Regions from separate parts of the Homo sapiens genome. Here region 1 is linked to region 2. Evidence: fine-mapped expression QTL. A gene starts in region 2. The other region holds a variant in brackets. All regions are shown on one strand. Distances are between the middles of the regions. Region 1 has its middle 8.6 kb from the start of SRSF9. Region 2 holds the start of RNF10 (ring finger protein 10).

What was found.
Region 1: its variant is fine-mapped to the expression of RNF10 in lung (TOPMed, PIP above 0.99).

What each region holds. Positions count from the first base shown.
Region 1 is chr12:120,475,668-120,481,043 of GRCh38, reverse strand. It overlaps a transcript of DYNLL1 not described here. Among named protein-coding and RNA genes, the nearest start is that of SRSF9, 8.6 kb to the right of the region's middle. The variant A/C (reference allele first, on the strand shown) is at 2,927.
Region 2 is chr12:120,531,879-120,537,254 of GRCh38, reverse strand. It overlaps RNF10 (ring finger protein 10), which reads right to left and starts at 2,899. Exons shown (of 17, transcript NM_014868.5): 1 at 2,287-2,899. The coding sequence starts at 2,443. It overlaps LOC128071547, which reads right to left and starts at 2,558. Exons shown (of 1, transcript NM_001414895.1): 1 at 2,298-2,558. The coding sequence starts at 2,558. The coding sequence ends at 2,298. RefSeq lists silencers at 2,680-2,749, 2,848-3,001.

The sequences.
Region 1 (5,376 bases), 56 kb after region 2:
CTCACGCCTGTAATCCCAGCACTTTGGGAGGCCAAGGTGGGCAGATCACGAGGTCAGGAGATCGAGACCATCCTGGCGAACATGGTGAAACCCCATGTCTACTAAAAATGCAAAAAATTAGCTGGGCATGGTGGCGGGCGCCTGTAGTCCCAGCTACTCGGGAGGCTGAGGCAGGAGAATGACGTGAACCCGGGAGGCGGAGCTTGCAGTGAGCCAAGATGGAGCCACGACTCCAGCCTGGGCAACAGAGCGAGACTCCGTCTCAAAAAAAAAAAAAAAGAAAAATGCTTTGAGGTGGAACAAAAGGCATAATGGGAGACAACAAGGCCTTTCAGAGGTATAAACTCAAAGGAAAGTTCTAGATTGGGTCACACAGGCCTGGGCCCCTTACTAAGTCAAGGACCTGAAGGCTGAGGAGGCCTTGGCCAGGCAAAGACTCGGGAGGCAGAGGTAGAGGGAGCAAAACAGTGTCCAGGGAGAGGAGCCAGCCCATGCAAAGACCTGGAGGAAGGAAAGGGACACAGGCTTCCAGACAGCAGATCCCAGAGAAGCTGCCAGGAGTAGCAGGAGTGGAGGAGAAGCTGCTTCAGGCACATCCTGAAGGCCAAGGTGAGGGTGTGGAGATGGTGTTGTCTCTAGGGAGGCAGACACTTTGTCCCCTCTGCTGTGTCCCTAGCATCTAGCACAGTACACACTGTAGATGTCAGTATCTTGGAGATCTTTTCATATCCACACATATGAATGTGGTATTTTTAATGTTTGCATAGTATTCAGAACTAGAACTGTACATTTCCTGCTTAACCAGCCCCCTCTGGATGCAGATTGAGGTCCCCTCTAATTTTGGGGGAACCATAGGTTTTAATAAACATCCTCACATTTTGAATTCCGCTCCCCCTGAGCCCCATCTTCCTCACACAAGGAGGGATGATTGGATTTTTGCTTTGTCCCCTTCTGCTGTCCTTCTGTCTTCCAAACAAGCATCCTTTTGCTATTCACAGCTCTCCTTTGGACACTGTGAGACCATACTCCCCTCAAGGCCCCTTCCCCCAGACTGATCATGCCACCCCTTTACAATCATCCTATTCAGGGATATACAATAAACATTTGTATGGTAAAGGCAACTCATACTGATTGCCAGTGAACATCTGAAATACTTAGGACTGACATGTGTAATCTAACCCAGCCAGGCTCTGATTTACATTAGGGCATCTCACTGTAAGTAGCTTGTGGCACTAGTGCAAGGAAGAACAGCCCTCACCTCCACCCCATGCTCTAACTGTGCTGAACTATTTAGCTTCCCGAAAGCCCCAAGCTTGCCTCTGTCCTCCCAGCTTTCTTTGCAGTGCTTTCTTTCTGTCTGGAATGCTTTTCTTCTCCTCTCATTTACCTGCCTAGCACCATCTGGTTCTTCAGGTCTCAGTTTAGAAGAGCCACTCCCTCCAGGAAGTCTTCCCTGAACACTCCCCTCCAGCCTGGGTTAAGAGCTGCAGGAGTGCCCTGAATTTCTTGTAGCACATATCTCATTTTGTTATAATTGCCTTTTTAAATTTTATTATTATTATTATTATTATTATTTTTTTTTTTTTTTTTTTTTGGAGACGGAGTTTCACTCTTGATGCCCAGGCTGGATGGTGTGATCTCAGCTGACCACAACCTCCGCCTCCCGGGTTCAAGTGATTCCTCTGCCTCAGCCTCCTGAGTAGCTGGGATTACAGGCATGTGCCACCATGCCCGTCTAATTTTTTGTATTTTTAGTAGAGACGGGGTTTCTCCATGTTGGTCTCGAACTCCTGACCTCAGATGATCTGCCCGCCTCAGCCTCCCAAAGTGCTGGGATTACAGGCGTGAGCCACCGCGCCTGGCCTATTACTATTATTTTTTACACGGAGACTTGCTCTGTCACCCAGGTTGCTGTGCAGTGGTGTGTTCTCGACTCGCTGCAACCTCTGCTTCCCGGGTTCAAGCGATTCTCCTGCCTCAGCCTCCCGAGTAGCTGGGATTACAGGCACCTGCCACCATGCCCAGCTAATTTTTGTATTTTTAATAGAGACAGTTTCACAGCCTGGTGCGGTGGCTCACGCCTGTAATCCCAGCACTTTGGGAGGCCGAGGCAGGTGGATCACCTGAGGTCAGGAGTTCAAGACCAGCCTGGCCAACATGGCAAAACCCTGTCTTTACTAAAAATACAAAAATTAGCTGGGCGTGGTGGCGGGCGCCTGTAATCCCATCTACTCGGGAGGCTGGGACAGGAGAATTGCTTGAACCCAGGAGGTGGAGGTTGCAGTGAGCAAGATTGTGCCATTGCACTCCAGCCTGGGTGACAGATTGAGACTCCATCTCATAAAAAAGAAAAGAAAACAGACGTGGTTTCACCATGTTGGCCAGGCTGGTCTCGAACTCCTGACCTCAAGTGATCTGCCCGCCTCAGCCTCCCTAAGTGCTAGGATTACAGGCATGAGCCACTGTGCCCAGCCTGTAATTGCCTTTTTATTTTTTAGGCCAGGCATGGTGGCTTAATGTCTGTAATACTAGCACTTTGGGAGGCTGAGGCAGGAGGATCACTTGAGCTCAGGAGTTTGAGACCAGCCTAGGTAATATAGTGAGACCCTGTCTCTATTTAAAAAAAAAAAAAATTGGGGCCAGGCATGGTGGCTCATGCCTGTAATCCCAGCACTTTGGGAGGTCGAGGCGGGCGGATCACCTGCGGTAGGGAGTTCAAGACCAGCCTGACCAACATGGAGAAACCTCGTCTCTACTAAAAATACAAAATTAGCTGGGCGTGGTGGCGCATGCCTGTAATCCCAGCTACTCAGGAAGCCGAGGCAGGAGAATCACTTGAACCTGGGGGTGGAGGTTGCAGTGAGCAAAGATTGTGCCATTGCACTCTAGCCTGGGCAACAAGAGTGAAACTCCTTCTCAAAAAAAA[A/C]AACAACAACAAAAAAAAAAACTTTTGGCCGGGTGCAGTGGCTCAAGCCTGTAATCCCAGCACTTTGGGAGGCCGACATGGGTGGATCACCTGAGGCTAAGAGTTTGAAACCAGCCTGGCCAACATGGCTTAACCCTGTCCCTACTAAAAATACAAAAAAAAATTAGCCAGGCATGGTGGCGTATGCCTGTAATCTCAGCTACTGAGGCAGGAGAATCACTTGAACCCAGGAGGCGGAGGCTGCAGTGAGCTGACATCGCACCATTGCACTCCAGCCTGGGCAACAAGAGCGAAACTCTGTCTCAGAAAAAAAAATATATATATATTTTTACTTTATTTTTCAGAGACGGGGTCTTGCTCTGTCACCCAGGCTGGAGTACAGTGGCGAGACCCTAGTTCAAAGCAGCCTCCAACTCCTGGCCTCAAGCCATCCTCCCGCTTCTACCTCCAGAGTAGCTGGGACTACAGGTGCACACCATCACACCCAGCTTTTTTTATTTATTTATTTATTTTTATTTATTTATTTTTTTTGTAGAGACGGGATCTACTAGGTTTCCTAGGCTGGTCTGGAACTCCTGGGCTCAAGCGAGTTCCCAGAGTGCTGGGATTACAGGCATGAGCCACCACGCCTGACTGTAATTGCCTTTTTAGTTGTCTGTGAATGGTGTGAGGGCAGGGTTGAGTCTTACTGTTGTATCCCGAGCACCAGTGCCCAGCACAGAGCCAGGCTCAATGTTCTATGGCTCGATAAATGTGGGTTGAATACATGAACAAATGTTGAGCAGACAAGGAGTGAAGCCACCACCAAAGTCCCAGATGCCATGTACATAACCCTGGGCTCTTAAAGCTGGGGTCCAAGCATAGCACTAGATAAAAAAAACCTGCTCTTGGCTGGGCGTGGTAACTCACACCTGTAATCCCAGGATTTTGGGAAGCCAAGACAGGTGGATCACTTGAGGTCAGGAGTTCGAGACCAGCCTGGCCAACATGGTGAAACCCAATCTCTACTAAAAATACAAAATTATCCAAGTGTGGTGGCAGGTGCCTGTAATCCCAGTTACTTGGGAAGTTGAGGCAGGAGAATCGCTTGAACCTAGGAGGCAGAGGTTGCAGTGAGCCAAGATCGTGCCACTGCACTCCAGCCTGGGCAACAGAGCGAGACTCCGTCTCAAAAAAAAAAACAAAAAAAACAAAACAAAAAACAAAGTCCGGGCGCGGTGGCTCATGCCTGTAATCCCAGCACTTTGGGAGGCCAAGGCGGGCGGACCACCTGAGGTTGGGAGTTCGAGACCAGCCTGACCAACATGGAGAAATCCCATCTCTACTAAAAAATACAGAATTAGCCAGGTGTGGTGGTGCATGCCTGTAATCCCAGCTACTCAGGAGGCTGAGGCAGGAAAATCGCTTGAACCTGGGAGGCGGAGGTTGCAGTGAGCCGAGATCGCACCACTGCACTCCAGCCTGGGTGACAAGAGCGAAACTCTGTCTCAAAAAACAAACAAAAAAACCCCCCAAACATCCGCTGTCCTTCTAGCACCTTCAAGGAGTGTGTCACAACAAGACAGACTGGCAGCCCATGAGAAGGATGGAATTACAAAAGAAACTGGTCCCCAGCTGCCTAGCAAGGAATGTCTGTCAATGTGACATTCACAGAAGCCCTGCACATGTGCTGGCTGAGGGGGAGAGCCAGCCTCAGGCAGACAGAAGGAAGTTCAGCCACTGGGCATGTGTTAGCATGGGGGATGTGTAGCCTAGAAGCTTCCTGGCTTTCAGTTATTATTATTTTTTTTTAACTTAAAAAAAAAAAACTCCAGATAATTCCCATACTTGTTTTTTACCTTTAAGGAATGTATTTGCCTTGGAGGTGCCATTACTGAATTATATTGACGCAGTTCATTAAAAATCTGCTTAGTATAAAACTGACTTGGGTCTAAAAAAATTAGGATTCTACTAAATAAATGCATCCTTTTTTGTTGCATTGAAAAACATTCTTAGTACTGTTATTAATCTTTTCACACCCCCCTACCCTTTGCTTGTGTTTCTGATTTACTCTGCTGTGAAGAAAGTTTTCAAGGTTTGTTACAGTGGAAAATGTTTTGGAAAAAGTTCTGGGTTGAGGGTAAGGAATTTAGAGCTTAGGAAATGAAATTTGGTGAACCTGATGAGCTCATTTGCCATTTTGTACCTCAGTTCCACTTTTCTGGAGCTAGAATAACTGTTCTTTATATACTAGTTAATAAAATCAACAGGTGTTTACTAAGCACTTACTATGTGCCAGTACCATAGGGCTGTAAAGGGAAGTGATTGGTCTCAGTGTTTCTTGGCCTTTTTTGGGGGAATGGGGGAGTACAGCTTATAGACCTTTGAGAATGATAAATTCCTACGCTGTCCTGTATGGTAGCCACTAGCCACATTTGGCTATTACAATTAAAGTTAATTATTGTTAAATA
Region 2 (5,376 bases):
TGCAACCTCGAACTTCTGGGTTTAAGTGCTCTTCCTCCTCCCCTGCCTCAGCCTCTTCACAGCTGGGACTACAGGTGCGTGCCACCACGCCCGGCTCATTTATTTTTTTGTAGGACAGGGTCTCGAACTCCTGGGCTCAAGTAATCGGCCTGCCTCAGCCTCCCAAAGTGCTGGGATTATAGCCACCCAGCCCATTTGAAATGTTAACAATGACAAATACTTGCTTTGGTCAAACTACTATAGAATTCTGTATCATCTTGTTGGGTAATCAGAGTTAATTCCACTAACCAACATATTCAAAGTGAAGGACATAGCAGTAAAATTCCTTAAATACCTGTTTGTTTGTTTTATTTTAAGTTGTCACAAGCTTTCACCTACTGCTAAGAAATAAACTTAAGGCATTTATTGCAACTGACTAATGAATGTATGTTAGTGGCTTAAAGAGGAGCCCCAGAAAAATTAGTTGAGAATTCACAGTTGGAGAACCAAATCCTTAACATACATCTGGGAATAGAGTACAAAAATAAACTTACTTATCAATTGCTTTGAACAGACCACTCTAAACCAGTTCCAACACTGACCAAAAGGACTGGTTACCTTCTATCTTTTGAGGGATCTATGGCAAAGCTACGCATGTGCAGAACTGCAAAATCAGTCTGCATACATGCCATTTCCTGACACGGCCCGAGAACCCATACTCCAATGGTCTCACACCAGGTAAACAAGTTTGCCATATCCAGCAGGTGAACTCTGAGCGAGTTAGCAGACCTTACAATTTTCTGTTTTTTTTGTTTGTTTTAAGTCAGCCTTAGTTTTCTTTTTACTGTTTAGAGATGGGGGTCTCTGTTACCCAGGCTGGATGGTATGCAGTATCGTGATATAGCTCACCGCAGCCTCAACTTCCTTGAGCTTAAGCGATCCTCCCACCTTACCCTTCCAAGTAGGTAGGGTTACAGGTGTGTGCCACCACACTCGGCTAATTTTTTTTTTTTCTTATGGAGACGAGGGTCTTACTATCTTGCCCAAGCTGGTGTGAAACTCCTGGGCTCAAGCTATCCTCCCACCTCAGCCTCCCAAAGTGTTCGGATTACAGGCATGAGCCACCGCGCCCGGTCTCACTCTAAACAGTTTTTTTAATCTTGACAAGTTTTAAACTGGACCTCCACATTTAGGGACTTCAAATATTTCCCTCTCTGCCACAACATCCCCACTGTCGCTGAAAACACCTTCCTATTACTGCTAATGTGACTGAAATACAAAAGAGAGCAGAGATTAGTACAAACTTCGAAATAAAATGAAGAACACCGGGACTCTAGCCTCTGCCAACTCCTAACATCCTACCTGCTCAGTTTATTCCTTCTTTAAATATGAACAATTTCACCCTGGTAGACAAGTCAGTGACTGGCACAGTGAAAACAGAGGTAAAAACTTCACCTAGTACTTGGCACATGGTAAGCCCTCAATTAAAGGTAGCTATTATCAACATGGTCATAATATTGACAGACTTGATTACAGAAATAAAACCTTCCCTGTTAAAGGACAATCCTATAGTCCAACACACAACAATAGACATTATGTGTATTTGGCGCAAAATAGACGCCAGATATCCTAAGACCTTAGTTCATTTGTTTTGTTTTTAATTAGTTTTTTAAGTTTATTTAATTATATTACCTCCACCTACCTTTACAAGTAAGTAAACTCGGGGCACTCACTCAAGGTCTGGCAAACTGGGACCCAAAAAGACTGAATTCATAGTCTGCGCTCTTAACCCCACAATGAATAGCCACTGAAGGATGACTTCCTCTTCGACAGAGGAATGGATCTGGGACCAGGTTATTAAATAAGAGATCTGAGTTTGAAAGGTCCTTGGGCCCTCACCCACCCATCTAAACTTGAACACTATCCAATGTTAATTCAACATTAAAGGGTAGAACAACTTAGTGGTTTTAGGAGCGTGGACTGATGAGTCACACAAACCAAGTCTTAAGGCCTGCTGTGAGCCAAATACTAGCTGGGTGACCTTACCCTTTCTCATCATATGCAAAATGGCGATAAGAACAGCACCTGCTTAATCGAGCAGTTTTGAGTATTAATGTAAATGATCCACGTAAACCACGCAGCACAGCGCTCATTAATGTAACTGCAAATGAGAGCCATGGAAAAGGGCAGGTAGGAGCTATAAAAGAAAGTGGAGCCTGTCCCCGAGTAACCCAGCCGATGAGAGCAACGACTCTCCCCAGCAGCAGGGGCAGTCGCCCCCGCCCACTGCCGCAGGCCCGTCCTTACCGCTCTTGGGTTTAGACTCGCCGGCTGGCCCCGCCGAGGCGGAGCGGGGCGGCTGTTGCCCTTTGCTGCTGCCCGAAGAGGCGGAGGAGCTGTTGGAGCCGCTGTTCTTGTCCATGTCGGAGGCGGTGGCGGCGGCGTTGGGGGAGCTCAGCGGCATCAACGGGGGCCTCGGCGGCGACGGCAGTCGGAGCGGAGCGGGCGCGGCGGGGACCCAGGCTCATGGCGTTCAGGGCCGGCGGGGGTCGGCGGCGGCAGCGGTTCTCGGCCTTCATGGCGACATTTTTCCCTGTTTCCTTCCTTGGCTTCTCAAACTAGGAAGAGAAGCGGCGGACGGGGCTGTTAAGCCCGGCGGCAGCGGCGACCGAGGACGAGGAGGCCGGGGCTCGGGAGTCCGGGCCGGGCCTGGCGGGGCGGAGGCTGCGGGGGAAGGGGAGGCGAGGGAGGTTGCGCGAGCCCCGCCGGCCGGCCGGCCGGACACGCTCTCCCGCCGCGAGGCAGGGGAGAGGGCTGGCTGTCTCGGTGTCGGGGACTAGTGTCTCCGACACAGCAACGGATACTCGCCCCTGGGCCGAGGCCGACCTGCTCCGGGAATGGCGACGAGTCGCCAAACAGCATCTCAAAGAACCCGGATGGACTGTATATATAGTGGAGAGGGGGTGAGGTATTCTGGGAAATGTAGTTTTTGCCTACATCCGGGTCTCGTGGTTTGTTTTTTGGTTTTTGTTTGTTTGTTTGTTTTGGTTTTGTTTTTTTTATTTCCTCCCCCACCTCCGCCCCAACCCCACTGTGAGGGCATTCAAAATAATGGGACTTGCAGTTGCTCCAAGTCCAGGTTTTTCACTTAGTACACTAAAAATACAGTAACAATAATAATATACACTGATAATAATGTAGCCAAACATTGGAATACCTGTGGAACTCCTTTATAGACTCGTTTGATTTATGGTTCTTTTTTTTTTTTTTTGAGGCGGAGTCGCTCTGTCGCCCAGGCTAGAGTGCAGTGGCGCGATCTGGGCTGACTGCAAGCTCCGCCTCCCGGGTTCACGCCATTCTCCTGCCTCAGCCTCCCGAGTAGCTGGGACCACAGGCGCCCGCCACCACGCCCGGCTAATTTTCTGTATTTTTAGTAGAGACACGGTTTCACCGTGTTAGCCAGGATGGTCTTGATCTCCTGACCTCGTGATCTGCCCACCTCGGCCTCCCAAAGTGCTGGGATTACAGACGTGAGCCACCGCGCCCGGCCAATTTATGGTTCTTATTCTAGCGTTAATACCAATTGATTTATGGCCTTTAGTCTATCTCATATTAGGAATAATAATAATAACGTTAATAATGACAATACCTTACATTTAATATCACTTTACGGCACTTCTTCATACAGTACATCACTTTATTTCTTTAGCCTGGCGTGGCGGTGCGCACCTGTGGTCCCCATTACCCAGGAGACAGAGGCGGAAACAGGCCATAAGCAGTGTTTCATGCGTGTAATCCCAACACTTTGGGAGGCAGAGGTGGAAGGATCCTTGGAGGCCAGGAGTTCCAGACCAGCCTGGGGAATATAGCGAGACCCCTGTCTCTAAAGAATAAAAATATTTTTTAAAAAATTAGTTGGGCAGCCGGGCGTGGTGGCTCACACCTGTAATTCCAGCCCTTTGGGAGTCTGAGGAGGGGGCAGATCACTTGAGGCCAGGAGTTCAAGACCAGCCTGGCCAACATAGCAAAATCCCGACCCTATTAAAAATACAAAAATTAGCTGGGCTCTGAATAAAATAGTTTGAATAAAACTAACTTTAATTTAAAAGAGAGAAAGAAAAAAAAATTAGCCAAGCATAGTGGCTGTGGCTGCACACCTGTAGTTCTAGCTACTCAGGAAACTGAGGTGGGAGGATCACCTGAGCCCAGCAGTTGGAGGTTGCAGTGAGATACGATCGTGCCAGTGCACTCCAGTATGAGTGACAGAGAGGGAGACCCTGTCTAAACTTTTTTTTAAAAAGTAGAAACAGAGAACAAAAAGCAGATTAGTCATTTCAAAATTACTTTTCTTGTAAAGGTTTAAGCAGAATGGACTTCCTTATGTGGGGTAAAACTGACCAGTTTGGGGATTTGATGATTTCTCAGAAGGTCAGATAAACAATTTCGTTTAGGCGTGGTTGGGTAGAAATTCACCTTGAGTAACTCTGTTTTGGTTTGGTCTACTGTGCTGAAGCTCAGTGCAAAACAATGGGCTCCTATAAATTGTATTTAACAGCTGTTAACATTATCACATTTAATCTTCTCAATAACTAAATTTTAGACTAAGTGTGCCTGTAGTCCCAGCTACTCAGGAGGCTGAGGAGGGATGATCACTTGAGCCCAAGAGTATGAATCCAGCCTGGGTAACACAACAAGACTCTGTCCCTAAATAAATAAAATTTAAAGATGAGTAAATGGACTCCAAAAGTCCAGATAATTTGCCTATTATCACATAGCTAACAAGTGATGTTCTTACCTATGAGACAAGCAGTTCCTCATTTTACAGATACAGACTGAGATTTAGAAAATCATGCATATGGGGCCGGGCACGGTGGCTCACACCTGTAACCCCAGCACTTTGGGAGGCCAAGCCGGGTGGATCAACAGGTCAGGAGATCGAGACCAGCCTGACCAACATAGTGAAACCCCGTCTCTACTAAAAATACAAAAAAATTAGCCAGGCGTGGTGGTGCGCACCTGTAATCTCAGCTACTGAGGAGGCTGAGGCAGGAGAATCACTTGAACCCAGAAGGCACAGGTTGCAGTGAGCCAAGACTGCACCACTGTATTCCAGCCTGGGCAACAGAGCGAGACTCCATCTCAAAAAAAAAAAGAAGAAAGAAAATAATGTATGTGGGTCAGGTGCAATGTAATCCCAGCACTTTTTGGGAGGCCTGTAATCCCAGCACTTTTTGGGAGGCCTGTAATCCCAGCACTTTTTGGGAGTTCGAGGCGGGCAGATCACGAGGTCAGGATTTCGAGACCAGCCTGACCAATACAGTGAAACCCCGTCTCTCCTAAAAATACAACAATTAGCCGGGCGTGGTGGCGCACACCTGTAGTCCCAGCTACTTGGGA